2 separate regions of the Homo sapiens genome follow, and region 2 is reported to be linked to region 1. Evidence: microRNA targets listed by miRTarBase, many of them from high-throughput screens and not tested one by one. Region 1 holds a microRNA gene; the other region holds the end of a gene's coding sequence.
Evidence for each region. The annotated mature microRNA hsa-miR-371b-3p reads AAGUGCCCCCACAGUUUGAGUGC and lies in region 1 at 3,083-3,105, shown strand. An mRNA with a match to its seed (bases 2 to 7 or 8) in the 3' UTR can be bound and repressed. Matches are read on the target gene's strand: a 7mer-m8 pairs with bases 2 to 8, a 7mer-A1 pairs with bases 2 to 7 and ends in A, and an 8mer does both.

Region 1 (7,116 bases):
AAATTAGCTGGGCATGGTGGTGGGTGCCTATAATACCAGCTACTCGGGAGGCTGAGGCAAAAGAATCGCTTGAACCTGGGAGGTGGAAGTTGCAGTGAGCCAAGATCATGCCATTGTACTCCAGTCTGGCGACAGAGCGAGACTCCATCTCTTTAAAAAAAAAAAAAAACAAAAAAAAAAACACAAAAACAAAAAACCCTCAACTAACAATCCCCAAGCTGCCCGTAGAAAAGATGACAGGAGGCCCAGGTAGGTCAAATATAAAGAGAAGTCTTACTGGTTACCGTGGCGGACTCCCCACCAGTGGTGGCGGTATTGGGACAGAGGCTACAACTGCTTTATGAATTGCGGGTACAAATAGCAAAACAAAACTCCCTTGAATTTGAGATCTTACTTCAGTTCAGATACTGTGGAGTGGGCAAAGCAGCCGCAAGGGTTTGGAACACCTACAGGGGATAGGAAAACTTACAGGGGATAGTGGCCAGCAGACCCGGAAACCAGTGATAGGGCAAACAGCAACTAAGAACCTACTGAAGGCCCCACGTGGTGGCTCACGCCTATAATCCCAGCACTTTGGGAGGCCGAGGTGGGTGGATCACCTGGGGTCAGGAGTTCCAGAGCAGCCTGGCCAACGTGGAGAAATCCCATCTCTAAAAAATGCAAAAAATTAGCCAGGCGTGGTGGCTTATGCCTGTAATCCCAGCTACTTGGGAGGCGGGGGCAGGAGAATCGCTTAAGCTGGCAGAGGTTGCAGTGAACCAAGATTGCGCCATTGCGCTCCAACCTGAGCGAGAGCACGAGACCATCTGAAGCAAAAAAACCTTCCAAATATGAACTTAGGCCTGGCACTGTGGCTCACACCCATCATCCCAGGGAGGCCACCCAGGGCAAGACAGTAAAGCCCCATCTCTACTAAAGGAGGGATGTTTGATTCCCCCTAAGTTTCAGACCAAGCTGGCCAATGTATGAGACCCCAATTTCTACTAAACATTAGTGGAGCATGGCGGGGACACTCCTGTGGTGCCAGCTACTAAGGGTGGGGTGAGGGGGGGCTTATATGGGAAGATCTTTTGATCTAGGGAGCTCAGGCCTGCAGGGAGCTGTGATGGTGCCACCACACTTCAGCCTGGGTGGTTTTTATTTTTTGAGACAGTTATCGCTGTCACCCAGGCTGGAGTGCAGTGGCACAACCTCGGCTGGCTGCAAGCTCCACCTCCCGGGTTCATGCCCTTTCTGCCTCAGCCTGTGACTACAGGCACCCACCGCCATGCCCGGCTAATGTTTTTGTATTTTTTAGTAGAGATGTGGTTTCACCGTGTGAGCCAGGATGGTCTTGATCTGACCTCATGATCAGCCTGCGTCGGCCTCGGCAGTGCTGCCACTGTGCCCGGCCTTACTTTTTAAACTTGTTTGAAGTTTAAAGAGCAGAACTCTCAAAGAGCATAACTCTAAGTTCTAGCAGGGGTAGAAGGGAAGCACAAAATACTGACAAGTATTTTTAGGCAATGTACTTGGGTCATAGAAGAAGGTTCAGTAACGCCAGACATGAGGCTCATGCCTGTAATCCCAGCACTTGTGGGTGGCAGAGGAACCCAATAGACCAGAAACACATGATGTTGTTCACATTTTATTAAAAAAAAAAGTTAGGAAAAGTGAGACTGTGGCATTGTCCGTGTAGCAGGGTGGAAGCACTCCAGCCCATGCTCTGGCCAAACCCACTTCAAGCCTTACATGCATGCTGCCTACCAAATTCAGGAACAGGACCCCAAATTCCCTTTAAGGCCAACCAGATTCCCCCGACACCCCATCAAGCTTTTCCTGCCCTGTTCATCTGCAGGTGAACCCCGTATCCTGCCCACCCCAGAATATGCCAATTTTTATTATCTAAAATGGAGCATACAGACTGGTGCCCCGCAGAGAAGCCCGGGAACTCCAGGTCATAGCTGAAGCTGCAGTCAGACCCGCAGGCTCCCTTGAAGCAGGATGGTTCGTGATGCCCTACTCAAACAGGGACACCCCAAAATCGAAGCACTTCCCAGTACAGACAAAAAGGAAAGCGCCCCCATTTTGAGTATCCCAGTATGAGCTCCTCGCGAGGATCTGCCATCACTGTGACTTTCTTGCCTACAAGAGGTTGGCCTCCAATCATCCAAGCACATGTTAAATGTCAGCAATAAACTTGCTTGCTATGGGGGAAGAGGAAAGTTACATATCAATTATAACACCAACAGCAAAAAGCATTCCTTTCTTTGTGCATACAGCCCCTTGGTCACAGCTGCTGTTTTTTTTTTTTTTTTTCTTTGAGAATGAGTCTTGCTCTGTCGCCCAGGCTGGAGTGCGGTGGCGCGATCTCGGCTCACTGCAAACTCCGCCTCCCGGGTTCACGCCATTCTCCTGCCTCAGCCTCCCAAGTAGCTGGGACTACAGGCGCCCGCCACCACGCCCGGCTCATTTTTTGTATTTTTAGTAGAGACGGGGTTTCACCGTGTTAGCCAGGATGGTCTCGATCTCCTGACCTCGTGATCCGCCTGCCTCGGCCTCCCAACGTGCTGGGATTACAGGTGTGAGCCGCCGCGCCCGGCGCAGGCGCACAGCCGCCCTCTGAACCTTCTCTTCCTTTCACCATCTAACCCAGATTCCCTTAGTTGTGTCAGGTGAGAGCCCAGGAGGCCCCCTTCCCTTCCCCAGGTTTTCCGGAGCCATTACAGCCAGACGCTGTAAGGGACCTGTACCCAAGACAGTTTCCGGCTGGGAATCGAAACCACAGGCTCTTTAGTTCCTGCAGAAGACCGAGCTCCACGGCATCCGTTGATATGGGCGTCACCGGTGACGCTCAAATGTCGCAGCACTTTCCACTTGGACATCAGAATAGTGCTCCACATTTGAGGCCCACAGGGTGAGCAGCTCCATCTGCAAGAGCCCCGGCCAAGAAATTTATATCACGAGGAAACGGCCATAGGCAGGGTCTAGGGCCATCCTGCTACCCGCCCCCTCACCCAATCAAAATGGTATCTTCTCCGCAGGTTGAGTCTTCTCAAGCGGTAACACTCAAAAGATGGCGGCACTTTCACCAGAGAGCAGAAAGTGCCCCCACAGTTTGAGTGCCACAGGCTGAGGGGATGCGGCAAGGCGGCGATCGCAAGTGGAAGCACTTACCCATCAGAAGAGGCTTTTAAGCAAGGAGGTGGAGAGTAGCCCTTGATGAGCTGTTGAAGGTCTACAAAGCACGAATTTAACGACCCTTTCTTAAAAAGTAAAAAACAAGGCTTTCCACGTATAGATATTCAAAGCACTCCCCCGCCCATAGCCTCCAGATGCAAGCCATGAGGACTGAGTACAATGCAAGTAGGAAGGAACACGTGTGAGGGACAGTGGGGCCTTCGTCCTTAAGACTGAAAAAAAATCACAGAAATAGAACAAAAGTACAGCCCGGCTGGGCGGAGTGGCTCAAGCCTGTAGTCCCAGCTACTCGGAAGGCTACGGTGGTAGGATTGCTCTTGAGCCCAGGAGTTCGAGACCAGCTTGGATAACATAGAAAACCCCATCTCTCCTAAAAAAAAAAAAAAAAAAGCAGAAAAACGCACATGGGAATGGTGGTGCGCGCCTGTGGTCCCAGCTACTGGAGGCTAAAAGGGTGAGTCCCAGGAGGTCGAGGCTGCAAGGCGCCATCATCCTACCTGTGCACTTCATCCTGGGCGACAGTGAGATCCTGACCCTAAAAAATAAAGTAAAATGAAAGAAAATAAAATAACATAGCAATACTCACAGAGGCCAATGATACGTCCACACCTCAGGTCTGCCAGAAAGAACAAGGTTCACTGCAGCTGCGTTCTTATATAGGGTGAGAGCCCACTCAACTTTGATAGGATTAAAGCCCACCCCTTCCCACCCTCTCATTCCCCCTGGTCTCCGCCCCAAGCCACCCTGCTCCCTTTGATCCTAGCTTGCCTTAGTCAGACACACCTTCATAAACTTTTTCAAACACTGATTCAAATAGAAATTAGGTGATCCCTATTACTAGTAACGCCAACATGTATTCGTTATAAATACATTGGAAAACACAGAGAAATAACCAGAAGAAAATCATTCCACCAGTCATCCACTCAACAAATATTTAAATATAGTATTTTGGCAGAGCGCAGTGGCTCACACCTGTAATCCCAGCACTTTGGGAGGCCGAGGCGGACGATCACTTGAGGCCGGGAGTTCGAGACTAGCCTGGGCAACATGGCGAAACCCCGTCTCTACCAAAAAAATACAAAAATTACCCACGCATGGTGGTGTGCACCTGTAATCTCAGCTGCTTGGGAGGCTGAGGCAAGAGAATTGCTTGAACCCGGGAGGCAGAGGTTGCAGTGAGCCAAGATTGTGCCACTGCATTCCAGCCTGGGGACAGAGTGAGACCGTGTCTCAAAAAATAAATAAATAGGCTGGGCACAGTGGCTCATGCCTATAATGCCAGAACTTCAGGAGGCCGAGGCAGGCAGATCACGAGGTCAAGCGATCGAGACCATCCTAGCCAACATGGTCTCTACTAAAAATACAAAAATTAGCTCGGCGTGGTGGTGGATACCTGTAGTCCCAGCTCCTCGGGAGGCTGAGGCAGGGGAATTGCTTGAACCCAGGAGGCAGAGGTTGCAGTGAGCCAAGATCGCCCCACTGCACTCCAGCCTGGGTGACAGAGTGAGACTCCATCTCAAAAATAATAATAATAAATTTTAAAAAAATAAAAAAGCTGGGTGCGGTGTGGCTCACACCTATAATCCCTGCTACTCAGGGGGCTGAGGTGGGAGAATCCTTTGAACCCTGGAGGTGGAGGTTGCGGTGAGCCGAGATCACACCACTGCACTCCATTCTGGGCGACAGAGTGAGACTTAGTCTCAAAAAAAAAAAGAGAGGGAGAAAAGAAAAAAACAGTGCGGCAGTGAACATTTTTGAGAGCAACTTTGATAAAAAAGCGGAAACATTTCTGATTTTATTTAATGAAACCACTAGAGTTCCTTTGACCTTGAGGCATAGAGAGGAACTCAAAAAGGTGGGTGTTGGAGAGGTGAGGAGGGGCTTGAAAATGGTAAGTGCTCAAAATAATGAATGACTCAAGGAAGGGGAAGACTTGGGGCCCCAGGAGGCCAGGGTTTCCTTCCCATTTGTAATCCTAGCCAGCTGCGGGAGTACGTGCTCAACCTTTCTGGTTAAACCTAGTTCCTTCATCAATGAAAATGTACAGCATTTGCTGCAAAGGATGGCGAGAGATAGAAATGAGACAGCAAATAGCATGTTTGGCGAGAATCGCTAGAACCCAGGAGGCAGAGGTTGCAGTGAGCTCACATCACGCCACTGCACTCCAGCCTGGGTGATAGAGCCAGACTCCATCTCAAAAAAAAAAAAATTCTTGCTTTGATCTTTGTCAAGGTTGCGGGAGGTCAGTGCTTATGTCCTTACAGCTCAGCCATCCAGATTCCTATCTAACCTACTCACTCCTCTCACACTGCACCTGGATTTTCTGCTATTTGTGAACCACCTGGATGATCTCTCGGGTATTTCCTAGAACTCGGCTTTTTCTCATCACCTCATTTTGTCTTTGCAAATTTCTCCTTTAAGGGCGGCTTTCTTCTCCTGCCCTTGGGCCAGCACAGCGAGTTCATTGCTGACTTTTTTTTTTTTTTTTTGAGACGGAGTCTCCCTCAGCCACCCGGGCTGGAGTGCAGTGGCTCGATCTCGGCTCACCACAACCTTCGCCTCCCAGGTTCAAGTGATTCTCCTGCCTCAGCCTCCCGAATAGCTGAAATTACAGGCATGTGCCACCACGCCGGCTAATTTTGTATTTTTAGTAGAGACGGGGTTTCTCCATGTTGGTCAGGCTGTTCTCAAACTCTCAAACTCAGGTGATCTGCCCGCCTCGGCCTCCCAAAGTGCTGGGAATACAGGCGTGAGCCACCGCACCCGGCCAACGTTTGTATTTTTGAATATAAAAAATGTTATTAGTGCAATTGAATTTAATCAACATTCAACAAAGAGTATAGTCAAAGACGATTTTTAAGTGCATTTGAAAGAGGACTGCAGGCAGTGGCTCAAGCCTGTAATCTCAGCAATTTGGAAAGCTGAGGTGGGAGGATCTCTTCAGCCCATGAGTTCAAGGCTGCAGTGAGGCCTGATCCTGCCACTGAACTCCAGCCCAGGTGACAGAGCAAGACCCCATCCCTGGAAAGAAAGAAAAAAGAAAAGAAAAAAGATCCGCTGGGCACGGTGGCTCACACCTGTAATCTCAGCACTTTGGGAGGCCGAGGTGGGCGGATCACCTGAGGTCGGGAGTTCAAGACCAGCCTGGCCAACATGGAGAAACTCCGTCTCTACTAAAAATACAAAATTAGCCGGGGTGGTGGTGCATGCTACTCAGGAGGTTGAGGCAGGAGAATCGCTTGAACCCGGGAGGCGGAGGTTGTGGTGAGCCGAGATCGCGCCATTGCACTCTAGCCTGGGCAACAAGAGCAAAACTCTGTCTCAAAAAAAAAAAAAAACAAAGAATAAAGAAAAAATATCCAATGTGATATTTTACTTTTTTGTTGTATAATTTGTTTAAAAATATAGAGATGGGCTGGGCATAGTGGCTCATTCCTGTAATCCCAGCACTTTGGGAGGCTGATGCAGGCGGATCAGTTGAGGTCAGGAGTTCAAGACCAGCCTGGTCAACATAAGAAAACCCCGTCTCTACTAAAAAATACAAAAATTAGCCCGGTGTGGTGGTGGGCGCCTGTAATCCCAGCTACTCGGGAGGCTGAGGCAGGGAGAAATGCTTGAACCTGGGAGGCAGAGGTTGCAGTGAGCCGAGATCACACCATTCACTTTAGCCTGTGTGACAGGGCAAGACTCCGTCTCAAAAAAAGAAAAAGAAAGAAAGAAAAAAAATACATATATATATATATATATATGAGAGAGAGAGAGAGAGAGAGAAGAGAGAGAGAGAGAGGGAGATGCTGGTCTTGCTTTGTTGCCTAGGCTGGTCTCAAACTCCTGGGCTCAAGCGAACCTCTCACCTTGGCCTCCCAAAGTGCTGGGATTACAGGCATAAGCCACCACGCCTGGCCCAATTTGACTTTTTTTTTGACAATTGATAAC
Region 2 (7,116 bases), not on the chromosome of region 1:
ACAACTGCTCCCACACTCCCATGCAGGCCTGCAACAACCTCATCGACCTTGATGCTGATGAGCTGATCTCTGCCGCCTGCGTGGTTTATGCTGAGCTCATCCAGAAGGATGTAAGTTGCCCCAATGATGTGTCCTCCTCCTCCTCTTCCTCCTCCTCCTCTTCCTCCTCCTCCTCCTCTTCCTCCTCCTCCTCCTCCTCCTCTTCTTCCTCCTCCTCCTCTTCTTCCTCCTCCTCTTCTTCTTCCTCCTCCTCTTCTTCCTCCTCCTCTTCCTCCTCCTCCTCTTCCTCCTCGTACTCCTCCTCTTCTTCCTTCTCCTCCTCCTCTTCTTCCTCCTCCTCCTCCTCCTCATCAGAGCCTATCCTGATCTCCCAAACGCAGCCCATGGCAGGTGCATTCAACTTCAGAGACACAGACTGTGCCACGTTCTCTACCACTGACCCATGCATGTTGCTCCTCATGGTCTTCTCGTTGTTTGCACATGTAGCTCCTTCCTCCCTGAGCAGGCTGTACTACTTGAGAGCAGGGCCCTCATCCCCCATTCCCTGTGTCCATCCCAGTGGGTCTGGGCACCCAGAGGCTCAGGAGAATGTCGCTGCTTAGAAGAACCGAAGAATGAAAGGGACAGACCAATGTCTGTGCACCTCCCACCTGCCTCCTCCCTAGGTTCCTCAGACATTAAAGGATTTCTTCCTCTGAGGACACCAAAGCCCGCAGTGGACTGATGCCTTCGATGGGCAGGATGAAGGCCAGGGGCACTGGAGTGAGGGAGTAGATAAAACAGCTGCAATATAAACAGTCCTCTGGAATAATGGTTTGTGGTGGATGCTATGTCTTTGACCTTAGGGGCTGGGACGCACATGAGGGCTGAGACAGGGTCGTACGATAGGAAGAGAGGCTGGCTGGCTGAGAGACACATTCTGAGACTAGGGAGGGTGCTTGCTGGAAGAGACTGGGTCAGTGGCTCCTCCTTGATGGAGGGTTTTCCAAGGCTGCGGTGGATCCATATCTGGATACAAATGGTTAGAGTAGAACCAGCTCTGAAAGGCTTCCAGACCCCTGTGGAGGACAAAACTGAGCACATTTAATAAGGATTAGTTCATCTGGACTTAGGTCCTGAGAGGAAGGCTGGTCCTGGGGCTCTGCCCCCACCCCCACTGCTCCCCTGAGTCCTGTCACATCAATCACACAATTAAGTCATTTTTTCCAGAGATTTCCTGCTAGTCTGTGGAAGGGGCTGGCCTGGAAGAACTATCTGATGAGCAGGCAATTCCCTTCCTGGTTTCAAAGCCTCCCTCATAATTGTGCCTTCATTTATCAGCCTGCAAATGTGTCCTCAAGCTACATTTTATTTTCCAGTCTTGATCAATCTTTCTTGAGAATGCACTCTTTGCCCTTGGCCAGGCAGTCAGTTGCTCTGTGAGGAAAAGGTGCATCACACCTGCTCCCCCAGGCTGTGCCACAGCCCTGAGCCCCTGTCCAGCCTGCCCCATGCTCTAGCTGGCCCCTCTGAGGGAAGACATGTAGATGGGCCAGAAAGGCTGAAACTGCAGAAGGGTTGGGGCTGGCTGGGTGCCCCCAGAGCTGCTCAGCAACACACATACATACACACATACACACACACACGAATGCACACACATACACACTGCCCTGCCCAGTGACTACAAGTTTTCAGGAGGGCTGACATTACACATGGGCAGGAGGGATCCCTTGCTTTTGCTGTGAACTGGTCCTTAGAGGTAAGGCATGGCCATCCCTCTCACTCTTCAGCCAACTGTCCCTCCCTCTGCTCCCATCCTGGCACTCTTAGTGACCATCACTCCAAAGCCATTATGTCCCCAATGAGTGCTTGGTCTCCTTCCCCTCAGGCGACAGTCTCCCATCCAGGACCAGCTCTGAGTCTCTTAGCTGCTGTATCTTTGCTGGAAGGTTGAGGGGGAATGCTGAAGAATGAGGGCCTGTCCCCCCAGCAACACCTTCTCTGCATGGCTAAAGAGCTCATGTTTGCTGGGCAGGGAGGCACATGGGTCAATTCATATACTACACTTCTCCTTTGCTTTTATGTTCCTAAGGCAGTTTATTTAAATAAGTGTTCCCGCATGAAAGACAGTTCTCCAAGGATGAAACTGTGTTTGCATTTTGCCAGAGAGGCAGAGAACAAGAGTAAAAGACATCTTGCTGAGCTAGTTTTGGCCTTGGGAAGAGAACAATCAATAGAAACATCAGATGAACATTTTCTAATGCTTCTTTTAGACTGGTGACTTCAGATGGCCGATTATTTTTGGTTGGGACCTACACACAATGCCAAACATCTATTTCAAAACAAACATTTAAGAACTCATCTTCTAGACCACTTGCTGTCAAATCTGTTGTTAAAAGCACTGGAGCCCCTTTATTACACAGTCCTTCCCAGGAGCCCAGCGGATGAAGTTTGGGTGCAGATCCCAGAGCCCTCTCCCCCGACCACCCCTCTCAAGCCCCCCTCCTTGAACCTCACATCATTTCCTGTGTTATCTGCAAGGAGCCTCTTGTCTACTAGGGTGCATATTTGAAAACCTGTTAGGTCTTAAGGACGAGGTGGATTCAATCTTGACACCAAATTGATCCAGATTCAGATAAATCCCAGGTGATGGAGTGATGAAAGTAACAATCTTGGAAGAGTGGAGCTTCTCTCAGCTCATCTGCAGTACTCCCAGCCCAGCAGACTGTAGATTAGGATCTTCCCACCATGCTGCTATGCAGGTCCTTAAAAATAACACTGGGCTGTATAATTCATTCATTTATTCCCCCTTCTCTGGCTCACTTAGTTTATCATTTATACAGCCCAGTGTTGTTTTTCTCTAGTAGGGTCCATTCTGGAGATAGAACTACAGGAAGCATTGAAATCCTAGAGCCTAAGTTTGTGTTATGACAGTCTAGTTTATTTCAGCATGCATTTATTCAGTACTGTCTTAGACCATTTGGACTGCTCTAATGATGGCAGTGGCAGCCCATCTGGAGCAGCCACTGCCATGATGCCAGCTGCAGTGGGGGAGGCGCAGTGAGGGCTGCATGCTCCATGGAGCCAGTGGGAGCCAGAAACAGGCAGGAGCCCCGCCCCCTTCCAAGTTGGAGGGGTGGGAGCCCCACCCTCCCTGGCACAGCTGCAGCCACCCTGCCATGGCTGTGGACCCAGGCATCTCTGCACTCTTGGGGGCCCTTGAAACCCCCATGCCCTCACAGGCTCAGAACTGCCTGCTCCCACTGCCTGGCCTCTCCCCACTCCTGGTGCCCACTCTGATTTCGGAGCAAAGCTGTGGCTGAGACCAGGTGCTGTCACAACCCGGCCAGGTGTGCTCACACCTGGGGCAGCACTTACACACCAGCCCCATGCCTTCTTGGCCCCCCTCTGGACTTTGGGCACCGACAAGCATGGAAGAGAGGCTGAGGGGGTGGGTGCTAAGGATGGCTCGGCATGGGCCTTCAGGCACCCCTCATCATGAACAGCCTGGGCACCGTGGATGGCAGGTTAATGACAGCAGGAGGCAGGCAGATCCTGGGTGGAAAGGGGCAGATCCTGGTGAACCCCACCTTCAGGCCAGGGACAGTCTGAGGACTAGGGGCCAGGCTGCCAGTTCCACAGACTGGAGTGACAACCTATGGGGCTTTTTCTGGGTCTGCCCATGGCCACCCATGGACAAATCAGCATGCACTTCCTCCCCTCTGAAGCCCATAAAAATCCCCAGACTCAGCCAGCCTCAGGCAGACTACCGGATGACCTGTCTGTGGAGAGGAGCTACTCAGGGCGGGTCTCCTCCGAGCTGTTCTGTTGCTCAATAAAGCAACTCTTTGCCTTGCTCACCCTCCACTTGTCCACATACCTCATTCTTCCTGGATGTGGGACAAAACTTGAGACCCACCGAATGGCAGGGTTGAAAGAGCTATAACACAAAGAGGGCTGAAACCCACCCCTTGCTTGCCATGTTGCAGGTGACAGGAAGGAGAGAAGAGAGGAGAGAAGAGCTATAGCCTTTTGGGGATCCCAGACCTAGGAGCTCCCCAAGCCAGGGCTGTGACATCGTCTTTGGGGCTCTGTGGTTCTTGGTGTCTCCAAGCTTCCATGCACCGCTGCGTTCCCTTGTGCCAGCCATGGATGCTGTTTGTGGTACTCCTGGTCCAGCTGCAGCCAGCACCCATACCAGCATCTGGAGCTGCCCCTCCCACCACAGCTGGCATGCTTGGCTGTCTGTGTGCAGTGGCCAGACCCCACACTCATTCGTTCACACACACTTCAACACTCCATGTCTGGCTCTCCCTTGGCAAGTGTGGGCTCCAGGCCAATAGTGCGAGCCGAATGCCTGCCAGGCTGAGTGGGCAAACAAGCCCAGTAGGCCCGAGCAAAACTCAGGCAAAGGCGTCACTGTCCACACAGGTTTCAAGCTGGAAAGGAATACCTCAAGAATTCCATGACAATAACACAATAATGTCAGTGATGATGGCGGTGATGGTGATGGTGATGTCGGCGACGTCAGTGATGGTGGTAGTAATGTCAGTGATGGTGGTGAAGCTAATTATATGGCGGTGTTGGTGGCAGAGGTGTGATGTCATTTATGATGGTGGAGGTGGTAGTGATGGTGACATCAGTGGCAGAGGTGATATAGAATCTGGTGGTGGTAATGATGTCATCACTGGTGGTGGTGATGATAGTGCTGACTTTTCATTCTGCCAACAAAAACTGACTGTCTCTAATGGTACTCCTTAAATAGTGCCAGAGGAAAAGATGAGATTCAAGGAAGGGACTGAAGGGGATTGCAGTGGGGAGGGCTCTGATATTGATGATGGTGTTGGTGGTGAGGGCAATCATGGTGGAGATGAAAACAGTGACTAATTCATTCTGAAAAAACTAGTGCCCAGCACACTTCCAATGAGCAAGGCCTAGACATAATATCTTTAAATGAATCACCGTGGCCATGAGCATAAAGAAAATGGAAGCAGCCAGGCCCCATCCAAGCTTTCCAAAACTTGGTCCTGAGCCAGATATGAAAGCTTGGATTGGATTGGCTGCATTTCTTCCAAGCTCTCACCCTCACCTCTCTTTCACTCTTCTTCTAAGCCTCTTCCCTGGAGAATTCATTCATTTATTCCTTCTTCTCTGGCTACATTGAATGACCCCAAGGCCACTTTTTGTTCCTGGAGTTAGGATAATAGCTCTCTACCCACTAACAACTGCACAGAGGCACCGTGGATAAAACTCCAAGTTCTCTGGGCCCCAGGGTCTGTGTTACCCCCCTCAGAGAGGAAGAAAGAAGGTGGGCTTTTGCACCTACCCTCAGGCTTGCCAGCAGAACCGAGTCCTGGCCTGAAGCCACCAGACCTTTGGTCAGTGGGGAGGAAGGGATACTCCCTCCTTTCAGGAGGAAGAACATAGCTACTAGGAAGGGCCTCCACTGCCCAGGACCCAACCCCAAAGGACAGCTGGTGGGCTGGAGCTTCAGGAGGTCACGAACAAGGGCACGTGACCCCTACCCTCACAATTATACAGAAGCTGTACTAATTGGGTAATTAATATGTTCCACGCCTTGTGCTAAGCACTCGCATGCTTTATCTAACAGAATCAGAATTCTGATTCTGATTTCACCCTCATGACTGAATTCAAACTCAGAAACAGGTGCAGTCATTACCCTCTCATTACCAGCGAGGAACCTGAGGCACTGGGTTACACAGCTAGTGATTTGCCAAGTCCGGATGTGAATGCTGATGGGCGAACCCCAGGGCCCCACTGTTATGCCATGGTATTGGCTCTTGGGCAGCTTCCGTTTTCACCTCTTTCCCTGCCCACAGCCTCACTTGGCGTCTGCCATCCTCCCGCAGCCCACACTGAGTCTCCTGTCTGGTCCTCTGCAGAGCAGGCCCTCATCTCACAGGCCACCCCACCCTTGGCAGCTGAAGCCCCACCGATGGGCCGAGATGGTCCAGGGCTGGATGACAGGGGTGGTGTGTGCAGGAAGCTCTGTCCTACTTCCCTCGTCCCTCTCTATGCCTTCGATTACCCCAGTAAGTGTGGGAGGGCCCAGATGCAGCCATGTTTACTGCATCTTGTTTTGAAACAAAGCTCTGAACATTCCTTGTGCATTCCTTCTCCAGGATGGGGAGTGGGCTGGGGGTCTGGGGTTGCAGGAAGTCAGTCTGCAGGGGTGAGTGTGGGGACCCAAGATGGGGCTGGCAGGTCCCGCATGGAAGCAGCAGCAGCAAAGCCTGGGCAGCTGGGGTGGGCCAAGTGTTGTGAGGGGAGAGGCGCGCAGCTCTGGGAGACAGGGTGGAGGAGGGCTGTGCAGGAGTAGCCTCTCTTTCCTATCCCTGCCCCTGCCGACCTTTCTCTGGACCAGCCCCCATGGCAGAGACCCCCTGGATGGAACAAGACCAAGGCAGAGAGGAGGGAATTTCCAGTTGGTGCCAAGTGCCATCAGCCACACTGCTCAAGAGGGAAAAGGACTTATTTCTGGGACCTCAAACAAAAGCACTAGCTCCACTGTCCTGCCAGACCCTGGTGCTCGCTGAGCTTGTAGTGGGGAAGAGATTCACAACCAGAAATGAAGGAGGCTGGTGGCAGGCACGGGAGGGCGGAGTCACAAGCAATAGCATTTAGTCTGGGTGCACATTAGAATCACCAAGGGAGCTTTTTAAAAATAACCAATTCCCAGGGCCCACCAATTAAACCAGCATATCTAGGGGTGGGGCCAGGGCACTGGTCTTTTTCAAAAGCTCCCAGGTGGTTCTAAAGTACGGTCAGGAATGAGAACACCTGAGTTCAGAACAGGAGTTTAATGAAGGGGGATTAGTGATCAGCTGGTTTGACTCCTTCCTTCCACTTAGAGGGAGTTCAAGGAAGTCCTCACAGTGAGTGATTACGGACCAGAGAGGACAGGAGTGACTGTGCAGGGCACTGTCCAGGAGCAGAGCTTGTCTCCGCAGTCGATCTCCTGTTACTCTCCTTCCTGGACCACACCAATGGCTGCCCTCTTTCCAGGAGCTCTGGAATAGACCTCCCTACCCTCCCATCTTAGAGCCCTTCAGCTGACTGACTCTAGAATTAAGCATTCCAAGTTCTATTCTGAGCCGGCACATAAAAGAATTTCTT

Region 2: miRTarBase lists TBC1D21 as a target of hsa-miR-371b-3p. Seed matches in the 3' UTR shown: 7mer-m8 at 753-759.

Annotation. Positions count from the first base shown.
Region 1 is chr19:53,783,667-53,790,782 of GRCh38, reverse strand. It overlaps MIR371B (microRNA 371b), which reads left to right and starts at 3,041; the gene lies at 3,041-3,106. MIR371A (microRNA 371a) reads right to left here and starts at 3,108; the gene lies at 3,042-3,108. It overlaps MIR372 (microRNA 372), which reads right to left and starts at 2,893; the gene lies at 2,827-2,893. It overlaps MIR373 (microRNA 373), which reads right to left and starts at 2,078; the gene lies at 2,010-2,078. It also overlaps LOC124904767.
Region 2 is chr15:73,888,404-73,895,519 of GRCh38, forward strand. TBC1D21 (TBC1 domain family member 21) reads left to right here. Exons shown (of 11, transcript NM_153356.3): 10 at 27-110; 11 at 666-811. The coding sequence ends at 698. Among named protein-coding and RNA genes, the nearest start is that of TBC1D21, 18 kb to the left of the region's middle.